3 linked regions of the Homo sapiens genome follow. The protein of the gene in region 3 interacts with the protein of the main gene of each other region in a biochemical or structural test. Each region holds a gene or a part of one and is shown on either strand. Other genes may lie near its edges.

Region 1 (4,123 bases), on a different chromosome or scaffold from region 3:
CGCTCGGGCTCAGCGCCGTACCCATGGCCGTCACGCCGGCCGCAGTCATGCTGTTCATGGCGCCCGCCGAGCCCCCCGGCATGCCGGCTACTGCGCCGGGACTCAGGCCGGCCCCTAGGCCCGGGTTGGCATAGGACATGTTGAAGGACGCCGGGGTCATGTTGCCGCTCGTAGTCATGGTGTTCATGGTCATGTAGGTGTTCATGGAGTTCATGGAGCCCAGGCCTGAGTTCATGTTGCTGACCGGGACGGAGGAGTAGGCCTGGAGTGGAGACAGCGAGTGAAGAAGCCCCGGAGGGCGGGGTTAGTGGTGGGCACTGGAGGGCGGCCGTCCGGGACCTAACCCGGGGGCAAGTGCAGAGCACTTTGCAGAACACGGGACGCCCCCACCCGGGGCAAATGGCTAAGCGCCCTCCCCAGACCGAGCAAAGATGTCTTGCACGGCAGGGGGAAAATCCTAGCGCGGCAGGCATGAAAGATAAACGCTCACAGAAAATATGACCCCAGGAAGATGTGTAATCGCCTTACACGCCAGGCTCAGGGGCTGGCTTCCAGGGCCCCCTCATCGCCTCCTCCATCCACGCCAGGCGGTATCCCAAGTCTCCACCCCAACCAGCCTCGGCAAAGCGCCCTTTGGGGGGAAATCGTTGATAGAGCAAATCACCTATGGACATGGGACCCCCTGAATCATCTGTTTCCCAACAAGTGGCTTTATTGTCCTAGGGGTTTTTGCCTATGGTGACTTTTTGTTGTTTATTGTATTTAGAAGTAGTGTTTTCTACCTGCTTGTAGCAACTGTAATGTTAAAAGGGAAGCAAACTCAGAGTTAAATAAGTTTTGGAAAAATAAAACTAAAAGTAGATCCATAACAGAAAGGGCTGGGAGGGGGTGCTATAATAATCTCAAAGTGCTATATGCATTTTATTTTAACATGACTTTACATGTACACCTTTGCAAGCTATTTAGAAACTCGCATTAATTTTGTCACCACTTTACAGTCCCCTGTTTGAAAAATTTGGTGACACAGTTTGTCAAAATAAATCTTTTTTTTTTTTCACATGCTGATGTTGCTGCCGATGATTTCAACGCCTGGCTTTGAGATTCCGTGAGTAGTCTTGAATAATTTAAAATTCGAAAATCAAATTCTACTTATTTTCTCTTAATGCTATTGTATTTCCTAATTCTCAGCTTTAACATGTAAGAAAGTACTTTCGCTAGGGGTCTTAATTGAATGGTGGGGTCGAGATGACTGCGTCAGAATTAAATCTCTGGAAGACCTCTGAGCTCCTTTTAAAATCATCAACAAGCGAAAATCCTTATCAATAGCGATGTGGGAATGCATTAGGTACAGTATTTTAAACATACAAAACCTAGGCATATTAAAAAGCACTCCTCTGGTAATTTAATAAGGAATAATGATGTCCTTAAGTTTATTTTAATCAGCAAGTATGACTCAATTTGAAAATATGAGAACAAATAGATTTAAATAGGAACACCCAGTAAACTATGGTATGCAAATAAACTCAGAGGTAAACTTGTGAATACATAAATCTAAATAAGTCAGTTACCATCAAAATATTACGTGATCCTATATTTTTCTGTCCACGTCTTAAAAGTATTTTTTACCTTGGGGCTTTATTTTCTTTCCCTCTTCCCAAGATTATCCAAGGCAGTTCCAATACGCGTTTTCAATAATGGTAATTAAACTTTTGGAGGGTAATCGCCAGCTGTTTCCAGAAAAATACTTTTAATAGGTGGTAGTCCTCCCTGTAACTGGTTTTCCCTGTAATCCTTTTGTGCACATTGTAAAAATAACCCCCATGAACGTGCCACCAAGGGGACAATGAAGAGAAACAGGTTCTCGGCCCAGAGTTGTGAAGAAGATTTTGGTCGCACTAGCGCCACCCAGCGGTTTTAGAGAAGGAGCACACTTCTCCCCAAATAGGGCTTTTGAAGAACAAGTTTTACAAAATTTAGAAATCGTTTCATTATTGAGACACCCAACTTGGCGGCAGAGCGCTTTAATCAGAAGACGTCTGCGAATTAAACGGTGGGACGAAGAGGTCGCCTTGTGGGTATGCTCCGGCTTTCTCAGAGTTGCTTCCAACTCGCACCGGCGCTCGCCCGCCCGCTGCACCCCGGGCCCGGCTCCTGCTCCCGCTCGCTGCTGGGAAGAGGCAAGCGCTTCCTAGAGCCGCTGTTTTCAAAGCCCGGAGTTTCCTAAAACTCCCTCTCCGGCTGCGAGAGTCGGGACAGAGCAGGGCAGCAGGTCCCGCTTCCAGGCCCGGCCAAGGCCCGGCCGGGGCCACACCGGCGGGCGGGCAGCGGTGGCACCGAGAAGGCGCCCCCGGCCCGCCTGCCTGCCTTGCCTGGCGCCCACCGCTCCCCGGCCTCCCCCGGCACGGGCTCCAGCGGCGCCCCACCGGCCGCCCGCCTCGCCTTGCCTCTCACCTCCTGCGTGTCTGCGTAGTAGCTGTTCCAGTCGCTGGTTTCATGCCCTTCCATCTTCACAGTTCCTAACATCCTGGAGCCACCCTGCCCAATACAACCATCCAGCCCTGTGCGAAGCGACGGGCGGCCGCGCGGCGCGGGGCGGGGGAGGGGAGCTGAGCAGCTGCAGTCACCCGAGCGCCCGCGCGGGCCCAACGCCACCCGGGCGAAGAGGAAGCCCAGAGCTGCGGGGCGCGGCGTGCGCGGCGGCGGCGGCGGCGCGGCGGGCGGGGGCAGCGCCGGGGGCAGGCGGCTGCCGCGGAGCGCGGCGCCGGGGAGCGCCTCCGCGGGAAGTGAGCGGGCTGCCTCTGCGAGGCAAGTGCAGTTGAGCTGATGTGGATCTTACGTCGCTTGAGTGCCCACCTCCTCGTCCTCTCCCCATTTGTCCGCCGCACAAAGACGCTCGCACCTACAAAGCCCGAGGTGCACCTGCAAGGCGGCCGCCCGCCAGTCCGGCCGCCGCGCCTCCCGCCCCGCCGCTTCACCGCTGCGCGCGACCCCTCCCCCGCGACCCCTCCCCCAAGCGGGGCCCTCACTTTGTTTGCAAAGCAGTGTAATTGGTTTAGGCCCGGAGGCTAGGGAAAGAGGGAAATGGGGAGGGAGGGGGTGTAACCCCCTTTGGAAAAAGAAAAAATAGGCGGGGCCAGGCGGGCGGGCGGGCTAGGGCTCTGGATCGGAACCTCGCAGCCGGAGAAGGCCGGGGGCGGTGGCGTCGGAGACTGGGCTTAGAGACCTTGTGGGATAACTGACCCCGGGGTCCCTCCCCAGAGGTACACGCCACCTTCCGAGCGCGGGCTGCGGCCCAGTCTCGCGCCCCTCCTGCTCTTTGCTTCCTCCCTCCTGATTCCTGACCCAAAGTTCAACCCCGGGAGACTGGAGAATACAGACTTTTTTTTTTCTTTCCTCCTGAGAGCTTCAGACTAGAAAAGGGAAAAAGCCCCACTTTTGCTTCGTCACTAGAAACCGGGTCATCTGAGTCAGCCGAGCCAAGTGACGTTAGGCCGACCCGGGCCCCGGGCTAGCAGAGCGGAGGCGCTGCCACGAAACTCGTACCTGCGGCTAAGAGCAGGTGAGTCACAGCACCGGTTTATATCTTTATGACATAACTTTTTTTTTTTGTTCCGCCTCGGTCCGCTCCTCTCCCCTTGTCATCTGTAGCGACCACAAAGAGGAAGAAACTGAGAGCAGATGTCTGTGTGATAGGGCAGGCGGACCCAAGTCGGGCCGTCCTCCCCCTGCCGGGCTCCTCCTCCCGCCCCCCTTCAGCCGCTTCAGGGAGTGAGCTGGAGACGACCGTCTGGTTTCTGATAGGAAAAGGTCAGGGGGAGGGGACATCTCCCATAACACGCGCGTTAGCTGGGAGAGCAAGGGCCTGGGCGCGGGAACGCATCTGCACTGCGAAAGAGATGCCAGGCAGAAGCCCGAGACTGCCCGCAGCGGCGCTTGGTCCTGTCTGTGACCCGGAGGGTCCGGGCTGAGATCTCAGGGGCTCGCTTGGTTCCTAATCGGTCCTGGACGTCGGTGGGAGAGTCTTCCCAACGCAAAGTCTCTTTACTCTCATGAGGCCCTGGGTGGTGGTTGCCCACTTGTCCTGGGAGAGAGAACAACTGAAGTGACCGGGTGATAGGCAATT
Region 2 (3,500 bases), on a different chromosome or scaffold from region 3:
TTAAATTATACAATTCTTCCATGTTATCTGCTGTTACAGAAAATAACCTGGGCACAAGTGGTCTTGACAGGCTATCAAAAGATACTACTGCCCACTTTAAATCAGGAAAAAAGTAGGCACTAAAGCTCCCTAATGCAAGCTTGATGTGCCTCTGAAATATAAACAGAGAAAAGTTATAGAAAAGTTATAAAAAAGTTGAAAAGAATGGATGACCCAAGTCACAGTCCTTCAGATGAAAATAAATGTAGGTCCTTATATTTTGTATGGTACAAGTTTAAGATTTGTAAAACCAATTCTGTTATTCTGCAAGTAATAAGCAATAAAAATAAATTTCCACTTTAGAAGAAAATATATGTTCAATCCAAGACTATCTGCAGAGTTTGAATGTCCAGCAATAGAGAAATGGTTAGGTAAATTGTGGTAAATCAACTCAATGGACTATAATGTAACCTGTGAAATGTTTGATATGATATTAAGTGAAGAGACATAAAGGCTACAAAATTCTACATTTTCTTTCATTATAACTAATGTAAAATGTTATTTAAAAGGACAAAACCTGGAAGATAATATGTATAATGATGTCAGTTCCATCACAGTTCTGGAACTAAGCTAATCTTTCCTTTAAAAAAAATTTTTTTTTTGAGACAGAGTCTTGCTCTGTTGCCCAGAGTGCACGATCTCAGTTCACTGCAAACTCTGCCTCCAGGGTTCAAGTGATTCTCCTGCCTCAGCCTCCCAAGTAGCCAGGATTACAGTCACGTGACACCATGCCCAGTTAATTTTTGTATTTTTAGTAGAGATGGGGTTTCACCATATTGGCCAGGCTGGTCTTGAACTCCTGACCCAAGTGATCTACCCACTTTAGACTCCCAAAGTGCTAGGATTACAGGTGTGAGCCACCATGCCCAGCCTAAAAAAAATTCTTTAACTTCATTATATGGTCATTGCATTTTTTGAGTGAGGGCTCTAATTAATTTCAGAGTTATAGTGTAGCTATCTAGTCAACTATATTCAATAGATAAATAACACAAGCCACATATGGATTTTAAATTTTCTAGTAGCCACACTGGAATGGTAAAAACAGGTAAAATTAACTTCAATATATTTTATTTAATCCAATGTATCCAATGTACTATCATTTCTACATGTAATCAATATTTTAAAAGTATTAATGAGCAATTTTAAACTCCTTTTTGGTACAATCATAGAAATCTCAATTCAAACTAGCCACATTTTCAAGTGCTCATATAGCTAGTGGCTATCACACTGGGTATAGATGATTTACATCCCTCACACCTCAACATATTATGATAGCAATGAAAAGCAGGAGTTTGCAAGTTAAATTATAAAGACATTATCTCTGAATTGATGGAGTCATAATGATAACTAGGCAGCCCTATACTTATAGAGTCAAGTACAATTTTAGGTCTGTAACAGGCTTTATGGGGCCAAAGGAAAAGAACTTGCATCTGATTACCTTGTGTAGTTCTCTTTGTATCCAGAAATATCATCATTGGGAGATCGCAGTCTTCGTTGAGATGGTGCCTCCAGATGCCAATAGTTGATGCGGTTTAGGAACATTTTTGCCAACTCAACTATTGTTTGCCTTTCTTTTGCTGGCAGGTGACTAAATTTGTACTGCACAAAGTTATTCACACCCTTAAAAAGAGGGAAGGCAATTTCTTCATGCAGCTATGCAATCATACTAATTCTGAACACCCACACAGCCAGCATGATTGGTGGTTATTAGCAAAATAACAGACATTTCTCTATTCACAAAAATCTCTTCCTTTTCCCTAAAAGAAAATAGCAATCCCCAGAGGGAATCTTGCCTCAGATCACGGTGGATGAAAAGTGACAAGACAGAGAGGCTGTGAGTTGTGATTCTACGCCTGCTGAAATCCTGAAGCATTAAGGAGAAAATCAAAACCATGGACTGAAAAGGTCAAAACCCCTGAAACAAGAAAATATGACTGTTGTGCAGAATAATTATTGCTTTACTATCAGCAGAGTAGCCCACATATAATGCAGTTCTTAGATAAATATTGTTTTTACATTACAAAAATGCTAATCAAAAACCTGCTATCATGCCTACCACTGAACTAAACAACTAAAATTTAAACTCTTTACTATCATTTGTTTGAAGTCAATAAGCTTACCAAAATATATATATCATTCAAAATTATGGGCTTTTAAAAAAACTGTTAATTTAATCTTTCTACAGAATATTTCCATCTCATCTAATTTCAAATAAAAGAGCAATGAATTCTTATTTAATAGAGTTTGGAGGCAAAATAAAATTTACTGAAAACTGACTGATAAAAATGCATTTATTTTTAAGGATTCTGGTATCATGACTTCAGTAGTCATTCTCATCAAAAAATTCAGTCCAGAGTGTTTTTGTTTAGCCAAACAATCAAAGGCTAAAAAAGTGATGCTAATGAGAGATACTGACAACACCTAACAGAAAAACTCTTTACATTTTAACAGATTCCCTGAGTAAAACGGCTTCTTTCCAGGAATCATAATGTAGCAGGAAGTCCATTTCTGGGTACAAAATCTCATTTCTTTTTTGCTTTTTTTGCTTGACTTACAATGTTTTTCACATTGCTACTAAATCCCCTCACCTCAATAGGCTTTCTCAGACAGTGCCAAGCAAATGGACAAAGACTTCATTTTAAAGCACCAACAACAAGAAAAAGCACATTTCATGTGTTCTTCTTACAAACTACATGTTCTACTTAATGTTTTTCTTCCCCAAACACACAGTAAACTGTGAGTATGTAACAACCCTAAAAGGCAAAAGCTAGATCATGTATTAAATTAGGTATACACCTCTGATCCAAAGCCTCCAGGACAATTTCCACAGACTGGTAAACATCTCTAACCTGGGTATGGAGGAGGGAAGCCGTAGATAGAGATATAAAAGGAGGATTAAAAGATTTCTTCAGCCTTGAGCCAATAAAAAGAGGGCTTTTAAAATCTTTTTACCTGTTCAATGCTAGGTTTTTCAAATGGGGGTTTCTTTTCCAAAGAGCCTTCAACCACAGGTTTTCCTCTTTGTAAAATAGACTTTCTCAAGAGCTGCAAAGAAATCATTAAAAAAAAGAAAAAGAAAAACTTAATTGGTATGTCTATCTCTCTCTCCTCTCTCTTCTGTTTCTGTCTGTCTCTCTCTCTCTCTCTTACACACACACACACAGCCTTTAAAGGAAGTTACCATATTCTATTTATCTTAACTATATATAAACAAATCCTTAAGTCAATAAAATGGGCAACTATCAGGTAACCCAAATTGGCCTTCATGTCCACGGCCAGAGTTATGAAGAAATGGACACCTTTCATGTTCTGGGCAGCCTAGGCCACCCATGCTGGTCCAACAGACACCACCGTCCCATGCACTTCCCTCTTCTCCCCACTGTTTCTGGCTTTCCATTGACCCAGAGGCCTGGTATGCAACCCTACACACTTGGCACATGCCCATCCAGGCCACTATAGGT
Region 3 (3,500 bases):
CACTTCCCCCTTTTAATGAGCTGGTAGTGCCATTACATAATCACCCAGCTCACTGGATTAATGATGAAAAGAGGAACTGATTTTTCCAGTTGCATCATTTGAAGTAAATGTTAACTTTCTTTCTGAGTCCTTAGTTAACCGCATTAGTGTGACAAATATGTCTTTGTCTAGCATAAGTAATTAGAATTTAATCACTTTAACTGCATCTTAATTACCCCAAATGAATTGAAAGGACATTTAATAGCAAAGATTAAATTGCCTTAATGAACGATTTTTGTGACTCCATCAATACTCGAATCGCTTTAGCCACTCCTCTCACGCACTTCAGTCGCAGAATCTGCAGCGAGCACAGAGGTCACTAGGTGGCGCGCTTCGCTCGTTTGTTTATTTAATTTTCCCCATTGATCTGTTTTAGAAGACAACAGGAAAGAAAGCAAAAAGCACATAGTTTATTGCGTTCCTTCGATAACCTCTCTTTGGGACTATGAGATCATCACCAGATGTGAAAACGAAAGCAGTGATTTCAGAAACCGTCGATTCTGAATATCCCGTGGCGGCATATGCAAAGGAAGATGAGAAACACATGGTGACTGGAAACATGCAGTGTTTGACAGAAATTGCAAGATGCCCTCTAGACAACTCCCAGCCTATATACTCTGTTTTGGTCAATTTATTACTTTTTAGTGCAGAGCCCTAAAATTTGAGTTACAGGCAATCTTTGAAATAGCAAGGCAGGCACTGATGTGGAGCCAAGAAGTGTAATTGCTGTCCAAGTGCAGATCAGAATGCCAATGCCTGAAGGTATGGGAAGATCTGAGCCCTTGGGCCCCCCTCAAGGCAAGGGACCGAATGGACCAGCCCCACCCACAGGCACATCTAATGAGATAGGTCTTGTCCATCAATAATTGTTTAAGTGAACAAAGGGATGGGAGGCTGGGGTTTCACATCTACTTCTGGCACTTCCTCACATTTTCTGGCTGCTTCTTCAAAAAAGAGTAATAAAAAATCTCTTTTACAAGTCTTGAGTATAAAAGAAATAAGTTTTCATAAGTGACTCTTTTTGAGAGTCCCAAAGGAAAGACACACTTTCTCTAATTTCAAGAGCTTATTATGTAGAGACTTTTGAATCAGTTATTTCCACATTCTGACTCCACTAACCTGGTGCACCTGTCCTGGCAACAGAAGCATGGGATGGAGGATAAAATGTTCTGGGCTTTGGACTGGGAAAGCTGAGCTCAGGGCATCACTGTTTTCCAGTGGTGTTATCACAAGTAAATTATTTAACCTCACTGAAGAGAGCAACAGGGAAAAAAGTGGTAAATACCACTTAGACTAATGGTTCCCAAACTTGGCTGCACATCAAAATCACCTGGGAGTTTATAAAAATCCAATGCCCATGTCACGTCCTGTACCAATTACATCAAAATATCTGAAGCTGCAGCTAGGCATCAGTTTTTTTAAAGGTCTCTAAGTGATTCCAATGTATAGCAAGATTTGGGAACCACTGGTATAAATGTTGAGTCTTCAATGAGAACATCTATGTTCCGATCACAGTACCCAACAAATAGAATGTGCACAAAAAACTTAAGCTTCTTCCTTATCAGTTACTATGACAAATGAGATTGGTTGTACTTTAGGGTCTAGTTCTGTCCAGCTGTTGTCTTATTAAATTGCCTCATCTAAAAGAGAAGAAAATTTCTTTTTTTCTTCAACTTTTATTTTGAGTTCCAGGGTACATGTGCAGGATGTGCAGGTTTTTTACACACGTAAACATGTGCCGTGGTGGTTTGCTGCACAGATCAACCCATCATCTTGGTACTAAGCCCAGCATCTATTAGCTATTAAGAAAAGAAAATTTCTAGAAATTAATTTGTTACAATTTTATGATACCGTAACATCTCTTGGAAGAGACATATGTGGATGCTTCTATAGCAAGACCCTGTGATAAGTAATTTTTATGTTTGTATCAAAATAATCAGATTGTCTTGTGATTGGTCTAGTCACCTAGCCCAATCTTATTATCTCAGGAGGAAATTAAACTTCGTTAGTATTAACATACTTGTATTAAAATAAGAACCTATACAAACCTATTGATAGAAGGTAGGAATTTATGATTGTGCACTAAATCCATTCACATAAGAAATATTTTTCTTTTTACTGGACTCTATGAGACTGACATTTTTTATGTAGAAATAATGTGGCTTTCTTCTCCCAAAGATGCTTATCCATCTTATTCAAATAGAGACACAATGAGAGTATTATTTAATAAATATTTGTTAAATGTTTTCTCCAGCATTATAAGAAATGCACCCTCTAACAACCACAACTTCAGTAACACCTTCCTTCTGTTGCTACCCTAGGTTGGGGGCCATTCAATTTTACCAAGAGTGTGGAAATTCTGCTGTTTTAATGGGGACTGAAAGGAAACTAGTCATTTCTCATTCAAACCATCAAGGCTCCTAGATTGATTTAAAATATTAAGTCGGTGTTTAAATATTCCAATAAATGGACTTTACAAAGAGCACAAGCAATGTCACTTGAGGAACAAGGCCTCAAGCTGAGGAGCAGGATATTGGAGAGCCTCCTTCTTAATTACCCACCTTTATTAGACTTGAGGATTTTCTGTCTTACAAGAAAATCAGAAATAAATTTTATTGGTATGCTCTGTAAGAACGATTTCTTCTGATAACTTGGGGTAGCAGCATTTGTTTGATTAGCTGAATTTGCCATGAATGTGGAAATAATGACATCAAAACAGCTCGTGTAACAACCTCCTTAAAGACCTCGTAGATTAGAGATGACTATAGATTTTCCCCAGCGCGGATCAAAGGGACTGAATTGAACGTTTTAGCTTAATGATCCAACCCCTGTCACACCCACAGGGACGCGAATTCCGATTTTATAAGCAGGTGTGCACGTGCACTCAGATACTCACACAAAGCCGCGTGGAGGGACGAAAAGATCAACCACCCGATCGACGAGGATAGGTTTGATCTTTTCGATTACCTCAGTGTGCCAGTGTATATTCCCGGCTGGGCCTAGCGCCCTAAGAAACTTCGGAACTTTAGCTGTTAATTTTTGTTTTCTTACTATGACTTCCCAAAGACATTCTATCTGCCTACCGGGGCGAAGAGAAATGGGACCAGGCGTCAGGGCGGTGGGACCCTGTCCAGGGTCCTGACTCCGCGCCAGGGCTCCAGACCAGTCGGCCTCCGAAGGCCCTTTCACCCACCCCACACAAGAGGAAACAAAGACTTCTCAGCTCAAGGCCTCAGGGCTGCCTCCTGACTCCGGTCAGTTTGCAGGAAGAGGAAACAACAAAACAAAGGAACCGCCAATCCGCCGGGTATTATATCCCTCAGCTCCAACCTCCGACTTCGGACCGCCAGGGTCACCTTCTCTACGCTGACCCCGCTTTTCTTAAATGAAAACACGCCAACAAAAGCATACTTCGGATACAAAATCCAAGTACGCATCTTTTTTGGGGAGGTTAGAGCTGA

What was found.
Region 1: the proteins of ONECUT1 (region 3) and FOXA1 form a complex in vitro, tested with the Homo sapiens proteins (one study listed by BioGRID).
Region 2: the proteins of ONECUT1 (region 3) and KAT2B form a complex in vitro, tested with the Homo sapiens proteins (one study listed by BioGRID).

The regions. Positions count from the first base shown.
Region 1 is NC_000014.9:37,592,450-37,596,572, forward strand, and holds the start of FOXA1 (hepatocyte nuclear factor 3-alpha), read right to left. Parts: upstream 2,801-4,123; 5' UTR 2,524-2,800; coding exon 2,452-2,523; intron 263-2,451; coding exon 1-262. UniProt on the Homo sapiens protein: Transcription factor that is involved in embryonic development, establishment of tissue-specific gene expression and regulation of gene expression in differentiated tissues.
Region 2 is NC_000003.12:20,099,446-20,102,945, reverse strand, and holds part of KAT2B (histone acetyltransferase KAT2B), read right to left. Parts: intron 3,085-3,500; coding exon 2,992-3,084; intron 1,660-2,991; coding exon 1,478-1,659; intron 1-1,477. UniProt on the Homo sapiens protein: Functions as a histone acetyltransferase (HAT) to promote transcriptional activation. Has significant histone acetyltransferase activity with core histones (H3 and H4), and also with nucleosome core particles.
Region 3 is NC_000015.10:52,780,337-52,783,836, forward strand, and holds part of ONECUT1 (hepatocyte nuclear factor 6), read right to left. Parts: intron 549-3,500; exon of another isoform or gene 260-548; intron 1-259. UniProt on the Homo sapiens protein: Transcriptional activator. Binds the consensus sequence 5'-DHWATTGAYTWWD-3' on a variety of gene promoters such as those of HNF3B and TTR. Important for liver genes transcription.